2 separate regions of the Homo sapiens genome follow, and region 1 is linked to region 2. The links come from fine-mapping of genetic effects on gene expression. A gene starts in region 2. The other region holds a variant in brackets. All regions are shown on one strand. Distances are from middle to middle. Region 1 overlaps SMIM35 (small integral membrane protein 35). Region 2 holds the start of IL10RA (interleukin 10 receptor subunit alpha).

Region 1 (5,375 bases), 58 kb after region 2:
AAAAGCAAATGATCTCATGCTAATTTGAATACGTACACACACAAAAAAAAGGTGACTAGTAACAATTTTTTTAATGTATAAGTGCATATTTCTGTCCTCATAACTGATTTAAAAAGCAATCATACAAAATTATATATATGTAAAATACATAATGTAAGGTTAGGCCTATAACATATACAAATGTAATATTTTTGTTAATAATAGCACTAAGGGGTGGATGGGAGCAAAGCAGTATAAGCAAAGGACATGACTGTAGTTGATAAACTAATAATTATAACAATATATTGCTGAGTTTGTAACATTAATAGATGTGACATATGTATAACAAAAATATATTGCATAATATAATAATATATAATGTATACCATATATAACAATAATACACAAAAGAGGAGAAGAGACTAGAGCTACATAGGAGTAATATTTCTATACATCACTGGTATTAAGCTATCTGAAGTGACCTCTGGTAAGCTAAGATGTACATGGTAAATCCTAGAGTAACCACTTAAAAATAGTGAAAAAATAATTAAAACATTAAGCATCAAAATACATGAAGCAAAAACTGGCAGAAATGAAGGGAGAAATAGAAAACTCAACAATAATAAGTGAAAGCTTCAAAATTCCACTTTTAATATTGGATAGAATAACTCAATAGAAGATCAAGGAAATAGAAGATTTGAACAACACTACGGACCAACTACACCTAACAGACATCTGTAAAACACTCCACTCAACAACAAAATATGCATTCAAGTGTACATAAAACATCCCCTGGATAGACCATATGCCAAGCCGTAAAACAAACCTCAATAAAATTTAAAGAATAAAAATAATACAAAGTATATTCTCTGACCACAATGAAATAAAATTAGAAATCAATAGCAAAATAAATGGGAATAATTCTACAAATATGTGGAAATTAAACAACACACTCCTAAATACGACCTATAACCAATGGATCAAGGAATAAATCAAAAGGGAAATTTAAAAAACTTGGAGATGAATGAAAATAAAGACCCGGTACACCAAAACTTGTGGGATGCAATGATCAGAGAAAAATTTATATTTGTAAATGCCTACTTTAGGAATGAAGGAAGATCTCACATCAATGGCCTAATCTTCCAGTTAATCTTCTAAGACGCTAGAGAAAGAAACACAGGCCGGGCACAGTGGATCATGCCTGTAACCCCAGCACTTTGGGAGGCCGAAGTCGGTGGATCACTTGAGGTTGGGAGTTCAAGACCAGCCTGGCCAACATGGTGAAACCCTGTCCCTACTAAAAATACAAAAATTAGCTGGGCATGGTGGCAGATGCCTGTAATCCTAGCTACTCGGGAGGCTGAAGCAGGAGAATAGCTTGAACCTGGGAGGTGGAGGTTGCAGTGAGCCAAGATTGCACCACTGCTCTCCAGCCTGGGCAACAGAGTGAGACTCTGTCACAAATGAAAAAAAAAAAAAAGAGAGAGAGAGAAAGAAAGACAAACTCAACTACAGCAAGCAGAAGAAAGGAAATAAAGCTTAGAGTGGAAACTAATAAAATAGAAAATAAACAATAGAGAACACTAACAAACAAAAAATTGGCATAAGATCAACAAAACTGACAAACCTTTAGCTAAGTTAACCAAGAAAAAAAAAGACTCAAATTACTAGAATCAGAAATGAAAGAGGGGACATTGTTGTCAACGTTACAGAAACAAACATAATAAGAAATACAATGAACAGTTGTACACCAACAAAATAGATAACTTAGATGAAATAGACAGATTCCTAGAAATACACAAACCACCAAAACTGACTCAAGAAGAAACAGATGATCTGAATAAGTATAACAAATAAAGAGGCTGAACTAGCAATAAAAAATAATACCCACAAGAAAAACCCAAGCCTAATTAGCTTTCCCACTGATTCTGCCAAACATTTAAAGAAGAATTAATATCAGTTATTCACAAACTCTTCCAAAAAATAGAAGAGGCTAAACACTTCCCAACTCATTTTATAAGGCAAATATTACCCTGATGTCAAAACCAGACAAGGACATCACAAGAAAAGAAAACCAGAGAAAAAATATCTCTTATGAATATGGACGCAAAAATCCTCAACAATTAGGAATGATTGTATGTGGAAAAAGAATAAAGAATCCTCAACAAAATACTAGCAAACCAATTCCAGCAGTATCTAAAAATAAGTATACATCATAACCAAGCTGGATTTCTCCCTCGAGAGCAAGATTAGTTCAGCATCTGAAAATCAATTCTTGTAACACATCGTACCAGTAGAATTTTTTAAATCACATGATGATCTCAATAGATGCAAAAAAAGCATTTGACAAAATCAAACACTCTTTCATGATAAAAACACTCAACAAACTAGGAACAGAAGAGAACTTCCTCAACCTGACAAAGAGCCTTTATGAGAAACCCACAGCAATCATGCTAAATGGTAAAAGGCAGATGTTTTCTTCCTAGGATCAGTAACACGACGAAGATGTCTGGTCTCACCACTTCTGTTCAACATTGTACTGGAGGTTCTAGCCAGGGAAATAGTCAAGAAAAAGCAATAGAAGGTATCCAGATTGGAAAGGAAGAAATGAAAATATCTCTGTTCACAGATAACACAGTCTTACATATGGAAAATCCTCCTCCTTGAAGTCTGGGTATTTGGTAAAACATTTTTTTTTTTTTAAAGAAAATCTTAAGGAATCCACAGACAAATGTATAAACAGAATGTGGTATATCCATATAACAGAATATTCGGTCATATAAAGAAATGAAGTATTGATACATGCCACTTGAATGAACCTCAAAAACATTATGCTAAGTGAAAAAAGCCAGTCACAGAAGTCCACATATTATATGATTCTATTTATACAAAATATCCAGAAAATCTATAGAGGAAAATCTATAGAGAAAGAAAGTAGAGGCTGGGCGCAGTGACTCACACCTGTAATTCCAGCACTTTGGGAGGCTGAGGCGGGCCGAACACGAGGTCAGGATTTCAAGACCACCCTGGCTAACACAGTGACACCCTGTCTCTACTAAAAATACAAAAAATTAACTGGGCGTGGTGGTGGGCGCCTGTAGTCCCAGCTACTCGGGAGGCTGAGGCAGGAGAATCGCTTGAACCCGGGAGGTGGAGTGAGCCAAGATCGCACCACTGCATTCCAGCCTGGGCGACAGAGAGAAACTCCATCTCAAAAAAAAAAAAGGAAAAGAAAAAGAAAGTAG[G/A]TTATGGGGGGGCCAGGGGAAGTGGGGAGAAAAGGAGGGGGTTATCTTAGCTAAAGGGTATGGGTTTTTTTTTTAGGCGATGAAAATGTTCTAAAATTGACTGTAATGGTGGCTGCAGATATGCATGAATATATTAAAAACATTAAATTATATACTTCTAATGGGAGAATTGTATGTTATGTGAATTATATCTAAACAAAGCTGTTAAAAAAGCGATAAAATGCCAACCTATATTTATCTCTGTCTAAATTATCCCCTGGAGAGAAGGAGTTCCTAAATCCTTAAACTTGAAGAAGTGCATTGAAATGCATTTTCTATAATCCAGGTTTCCTGCAGATATGTAACACTCAAAACCCATGCAAAAAGCAGAGGTATCAAGATCCTTACACTTAGGTAAGAATCTACCCTAATTGTACTTATCTATCCATCTACTCATATTCCAGAAACCAAATCTTAGTCACTGAGAAGTCTGGCAGAATTGAAAAAAAAAAAAAAAAAATGCAGCCGTGAGTACGTGCCAAGCAGCATGAAGGTAATGGTGGCATTATGCACCTTACTATTTACCAAGCCATTTGGATGAACTGACCTAAAGCCAGGAGATCTTGCAAATGGTCATCCCACCGCCCATCTAAATCATGATTTCTCTCCAGATGCCCCTCCAACTCCCATTTAAAGTTCCTTCTAGGATGGGTGCGGTGATTCATGCCTGTAATCCCAGCATTTTGGGAGGCTGAGGGTGGGCAGATCACTTGAGGTCAGTGAAACCCTGTCTTTACTAAAAATACAAAAATTAGCCAGGCGTGGTGGCGGGCACCTGTAATTCCAGCTACTCCGGAGGCTGAGGCAGGAGAGTTGCTTGAACCCATGAGGCAGAGGTTGCAGTGAGCCGAGACTGCACCACTGTACTTTAGCCTGGGCAAGAGTGAGACTCCATCTCCAAAAAAAAAAAAAAAAAGTTCATTCTACTAAAAAAAAAACAAAACAAACAAACAAACAAAAAACCTCCTAGTTTGATCACTTAGAAGAAACCTCCAGCAGGTGATTGGACATCTCTAGCTTTTAGATTATACTGACAAGGAACTTTAAAACAAAACAAAACAAAAAATGAAGAAGCAAGCAGCACAACCCCCTGGAAGATTAGCAACACATCAAACAAAATCAGAAGGAAGTTCTAAAACTCAAAACCTAAGTACAACAGACCCTAGTGGGAGGCCCTAGGCTTTACTATTAGGATCAATGGTGGAGGCAGATGTGGAGATGATATTGCCCAAGGTCCAGGTTTGGCAAGAAAAATGGAACATTTTCATCTCCATTGGCTTCTAGGCCCCCTCACCCTCAATACATCAGGTTTTATGGAGCCTACACTTTTCTCCAGCTGGAATCAAGAATTCCTCCTTTGTTGCTCATCTGTTGCTCATCAATTCCACGTTTTAAAGATCAGTTCAAGTTGCAGAAGAATAGATATCACATAATTCTAGTTATGGTATACACACATGCACACACACACACACACACACACACACACACTAGAGAGAGAGAAAGGCTGTCACCAAGTTGCGGTTCTCCCTATGATTAAGGCAAGTCAGGGCAGGTGTAAAGCAGGTGATGATAGGGTTTATGAAGAACCAGGGGAGTGGGGTAGGGAGTAGAAGTAAAAAGAGCCTTTCAAGTTTTGCCTTAGTATTAGCTTGAACCATATAAAATTGTCATTTTTAAAGGTCAAAAACAGGTATCATCAATTTCACATGATTTTCATCTTTTGCAATAGAAATATTTGTGTGATGAATAATATTGCTGAAGAAAACAAACCAATCACATAACAATAAAAAATCAAGTATCTCCTGTTTGAAACTAGACCCATTGGTTTGTTTACTGCTCTCTAAACTTTACCTTCACTCTCTCTCTGATAATGTACAGCTCTGAATCTTTCAACCCAGTATAATGAATGAACAGACAGCAGATTTCAGGCAGATCTTTTTAACTCTTGACCATCGGGATATTTGCTTTAGCAGTGTGTGATGACGGAAAAAGACTTGGAGCCAGGCCATCTGGAAGCTAAAATATCATTACTCTGGGCAAGATTGAGTTTTAATCCTCTCTTATGTTGAAATGGGGATTAAAATATTAACTTCACAAGGTTAACGTGAAGAT
Region 2 (5,343 bases):
GTGGCCCAGGCTGATGATGTGTCCTGGTAGGCCTGCAGATATCACTCTCCCCCATCCATGTAGCTGAGGCACCCCTGCCTTCGCTGACTATCGTCAAGAGTGAGGTCTTTCTAGTCCCAATGTAGACTCTTAGATACAGGATGGGATCTCCCAACTCCCACCCCCAGCCAACCTGGCACACTTTCAGTCCAGGCCACTGGGCAGAGAGATTTCCGCTCTGAAAATATTGAAATAGGGTTTATATCTCCACAAACCATGGGGATAATGCCTCACTAACTCCTAGACCACGCACAGTGCTGGTGTCACACACCTAAGTTAGGGGCCCTTTCTCAAAAGCTGCAGTAAATAAGGCCCTCCATGTGGGCATTGGGCACTGCCAGGGAAACCTCCCAGGAGCAGGTGATAGTTACAGGAGGCAGTCAAATGCCTAGGCAGATAGGGCGGGTCCCTGGTGAAACCCCACCTCCAAGTTGAAGACAACTTAAAACCTGAAAGCCAAGCTGCAAGTTAAATCTTCAGACCAGATTGAGAACCTGTCTTCCCATTTGGCACGCTTTCCTCTGATTGATCCCCACCCTTCACCTACTTTACATACACCTACCCTTTCCTAATTGGTTTTCTACACTGTCGTACCCACCTTTGAGTGGTATTTTCACTTTAACCTTTTTTGCATACTCACAAACCAATCGGCATGCACTCCCTATTCTGAGTCCAGAAAAAGCCCTGGATCCAGCCACACTGAGAAAAAAAAACACCCAACTGTGGGAGCGGGGAACCACCCCCCTCCCCATCCCCTCTCTGCTGAGAGCTGGTCCATCACTCAATAAAATTATTCTCTGCCCATCCTCACCCTTCAACTGTCAGCGAATTCTCATTCTTCTTGAACACAGGACAAGAGCTCAGGAACAAATGAAGGTACAAACTACAATACAGGCAGGGCGGGGTATGGCCGGGTGGGTGGGGCAGCAGGCCTGGAGTGGGGCCTTGCTGGCCAGAAATGTCCTGAGCCCCTCTTCTTTGGTTTGTCTGAGAACAAGGGCAGGGCTTGAGGGATGCACACACAGTCCCAAACACACATATGCACTTGGCAAACAGACAACGTTCTCCACACCACAATGAAATCCAAATCCACAGACTGGCCACTGCAAATCATATATGACTGCAAGTGCACACACACACACACACACACACACACACACACACACACACTTTGAAGCAGGTGTCAGCCTCCAAGAAAAAGTGATGGACAGTCTGTCTCTCATATCCTCACATATTTGGTTCACCTGGAGATGGCCTCAGATGAGCCAAGTGACACAGAGGTGCGAGAGACTGAGGATGTGCTGAGGTGTTACCCAGCACTCCAGTAGTGCTATTACCCAACACAAAAATTGGTCTGAATATCAGATTTCAAGCAAGCAAGGGAAACCCAGAAGAGACTGGGAGAAGTCCTTATGGAGGCTAAAGCAACTCCATGTTGGATGCTAATCCACAGTTTTGGCCGTGTTGGCTTTGGAGCCTCCCAGAAGACCTCTGAGATTCCCAATTTATCAATTGCTCCTTGTGTAAGTGCAAACACTTACTGTAAATCCGGCCCTTAGGTCAAACAACCTTGATGTTATCATACTTCAACTGTCCTACACATCTTTTCTGAATCACCCTTCCCCTGTGGTCTATAAGCCCTGGTCCTGGGGGTGAATCATGGAGACACAAACGTAGCTTCTGTTTATAAGTCCTTATTAAATGTTTTTTTCGAAGAAACTGGATGTGTCAGCCTGTAACCTGCAAAAGGATCTGGCTGCTCTCTGCTTGTAGAAAGAATGGATAATAAAGGAAAATCTGCTAGCTGCCATGCTAGCAGGGGAAGAGCAGCAAACAATTCCACTCTTCAATTCATGGGGGGAACGCAGGGGTTTTTTAAGAAAGGATCTGAAATGCAGAAAAGGCAAGGGGGAGGTTAGGAGGTACCAGGTGGTGTGACTTGCTCCAGTGGTCCTCTTTAATTATCGTCTTATTTGGTGGAGGGGCTGGTGCAATCGTGGATCCTGCCAGGTTATAAATTAGTTACTCTTCAGCAGGGTATATGTTCAACTCCTGAAGTAAGCTTTTGTTGGAGAGAGAATTCCGGAGGTGCCTGGTCCCTATCAGGACGCAGCTCCTGAGGCATCTAAGGAAATATATGACCAGGTAAGAGCATAGCGTGTGCTTAACAAGCACGTAGGTAAATAAACGTGCGTAAGGCATGGGAGTACAGTATGGGACAGGAAAGGGAGTGGAGGTCACAGCACGTCCTGAGGCTGTGTTTTAAGATGAGAGGTAACATACATGCAGTTTGTCTCAAAATTATATCTTGAGGCCCAGAGGAGGAAGAGAAAAAAGGAAAGAAGAGAAACTAAGTTTAAAACACGGTTTAAGGCTGGGCGCGGTGGCTCACCCCTGTAATCCCAGCACTTTGGGAGGCTGAGGCGGGTGGATCACCTGAGGTCAGGAGTTCGAGACCAGCCTGGCCAACATGGTGAAACCCCGTCTCTACTAAAAATACAAAAATTAGCCCAGGCGTGGTGGCACATGCCTGTAATGCCAGCTACTCGGAAGGCTGAGGCAGGAGAATCGCTTGAACCTGGGAGACGAAGGTTGCAGTGATCCGAGATCACGCCACTGCATTCCAGCTTGGGCGACAGAGCGAGACTGTAAAAAAAAAAAATAGATAAAAAAATTTTAAAAATCGCGGTTTGAGGCTCAGCTGCTGAGCTGCTGGTTAAAAGCCTCTTTCTTGGGTCTCTCAGCTTCCTGGGACTTTGGGGGCAGGTCTGCATAAACTGCTTAGTTGTGGACCCCCCTCCAACAATTAGGTAGGGGACTACTCAGTATTCATCCATCGGTGTCCTCAGACCCCCAGACGGGGAGGCCCTGGGGCAACGCCAAGACTCACACCGGCGTCCTGGCGCCTTTGCCCTCAAGGGCCTGCAACTACCTCCTCCCCATTCGGAGCGGCCGCGGCCACATCCTTAACGCCAAGCCGGCACGCCAGGCAAAAGCGGCTCGGACGCCCTCACCCCACCTTCCGCACTCAGGGCCGAGGCTGTGCCTGGCCACCTGCTTCCCAGCACATGCACACACGCGCGCGCGCACACACCCACACACACGTACCCACGGCCGGCCGGGCTACCCGGACCACTTTGATCCGAAGGCACTGGAGGCCCAGAGGGAAGGAAAGGGAGGGGTGGCCGGAGCCCGCTAGCGCCCCAGGACAGCCTCGGGTTGCCCCAGGCGGTAGCCCTGTGGGACAGTGGTTCCCCGTCCGCGGCCTCGGGGGCGGGGCGTCTGTAGGCCTCGCCCCGCTGACGTCAGCCCTGCGGGGCGCTGGCGGAGCGGGCGGCGGAGCTGTCAGTCCCAGCCCAAGGGTAGCTGGAGGCGCGCAGGCCGGCTCCGCTCCGGCCCCGGACGATGCGGCGCGCCCAGGATGCTGCCGTGCCTCGTAGTGCTGCTGGCGGCGCTCCTCAGCCTCCGTCTTGGCTCAGACGCTCATGGTAAGGCTCCGGGACGCGGCCCTTCCCTGCCCTGCCCTCTCCGCGCCCGCTCCATTAAAGTTCTCCATCCAGTGGAGAGCCCTGGCTGGCTGGCCCTCTGGCAGAGCGGTGCCCGGGTGCTCCCTTACTCTGGCAAACCTGGATCTCAGGCTCACCTGTTGTGGAAGTGGAAGAGGCTGAAATTGACAGGAACTGACGGATTGGGAAGGATAGAGAAGTATGCGCAAGGCCAAACCCCCAACCCGCAAACCTCATCATCCACCCACTTCTAGATGAGCCGTAAGTTTAGCTCTAGGTTTTTTGCTGTTTAGGTTCAAATGATGGGACTTCTTGTCCCCTTGGGGAATAATTTTGATCTCCTGACTCTCCCTTCTCTTAGTCGACTCTTCAACTAACCTCTGTCTGTCCTTCTCCCATCTCACCTTCATCCCTCACTGATCACCCCGATCTGATCCCCCTTGCTCCACCTGTAGCCCCCAACTCACTCCCACTGCCCCCTGCCTCTCTCCTCCTAACCCAGCCAGTTCAGGCTTCTAACCCAGTTCAGGCTCCTAACCCAGACAGTTCTCCGGCAAGGTTTCTGCAACTAAGAAAAGTAAACCCCAGAGACAGAATGAAAGAGCCGGGAGTTGGAAGGACCAAGAGCAGAGACAGAGAGCAAGGACCGAAACTGCTTCTTCATGACACCAAAATACAAAGTAAAACATGCAGTCAGCCATTCACGTGATCGAGAGCTGAGTCGGAGATGTGCAGCCCAAATACCACAACGACTCGCTGCATTTTTCACTTTCCGTCTAATGTTTCGAAATCAAGGCACTGACGTGAAGATCAAAGACGGTATAAGAAAGAAAGCAAGAGACAGATGACAGAGTCCTCCCCCCCAAAAAATAAATAAAAAACAGGTGCATGATTAGAGAGATGTAGAGAAGTTAGAACACTAGGGAGCGGGAGCAGAGTCGCTGTCAAATGGAGAGAACTTAGAGGATCAAGGAGGAGAGAAAGGGAACCAACCAGCCGTTGGCCTTGCACATACTTCAGTCTGCTTGATCAACAAGACTCTTAAAGTAGAAATGTTTGTTGCATTCTTACAAAGAAGACAATGCCTTCAGCAGTGTTTCCCATGGTGAATGGTGTGTACTGGGGGTAAAGGGAGAGTAGAGCTAGGAATTGGTATTGAGTATCTCTCCTCGGAGCTACAGGTGCCAGCTCTTGTGGGGATGTCCTCAGCCATGTGTAGAGCCAGAGCTGATTTATTCCATCTGTCCTTGCCCAGCCAGAGGTTGGACATCTGGCTATAGGCAAAGCCCTCCCAGAAACTAGGGAATGAGGCAAGCACTTAGCTTGGGGAGCCCAGGAGACCTATGAAGAGAAGGAGGCAGATGTCAGCAAGCAGGCTGTCTGTGTACTTAGTGAGGTGGCTTTGAGCTGGAGCCTGGGCCAAGCCAGGGTGGGGATCAGGTGTGTGGATGGGGCCAAGCCTAGGAATAGTGCTAGAGCAGGGACAGGGATTGGGCAGAGCCAGGGACTAACACATCTGAGAGCTCATTGCCAACTTGCTTAGCCCTCGGCCCCTGCCTTCTTCCCTGGTAGGCATCAGACTCAGCTTGGCTCTTCTCAGCCCCCACTGCAGCTTCTGATCACAGAGAGCACAGGGCAGTGATTTAGGGAGACACACTAGCTCTAGAATCAGACACATGTGGATTCATGTGCCCACTCTGCCCCTTACGGGCTCCGCTGGCCTCGGGCGAGTCATAGCCTCTCTGAACCTCCCTTTCTTCTTTGGTAAAATTGGGGTCATCAATGCCTGCCCCCCCTC

The links. PIP is the estimated chance that this variant, and not a neighbour inherited with it, causes the effect.
Region 1: its variant is the best candidate, but not a certain one, in a credible set for the expression of IL10RA in whole blood (TOPMed, PIP 0.52).

Annotation. Positions count from the first base shown.
Region 1 is chr11:118,040,611-118,045,985 of GRCh38, forward strand. All of the region lies in intron 1 of SMIM35 (small integral membrane protein 35), which reads right to left. Among named protein-coding and RNA genes, the nearest start is that of TMPRSS4, 34 kb to the right of the region's middle. The variant G/A (reference allele first, on the strand shown) is at 3,225.
Region 2 is chr11:117,983,008-117,988,350 of GRCh38, forward strand. IL10RA (interleukin 10 receptor subunit alpha) reads left to right here and starts at 3,387. Exons shown (of 7, transcript NM_001558.4): 1 at 3,387-3,527. The coding sequence starts at 3,461. RefSeq lists enhancers at 2,815-2,874, 4,265-4,564 and silencers at 3,065-3,164, 3,185-3,464.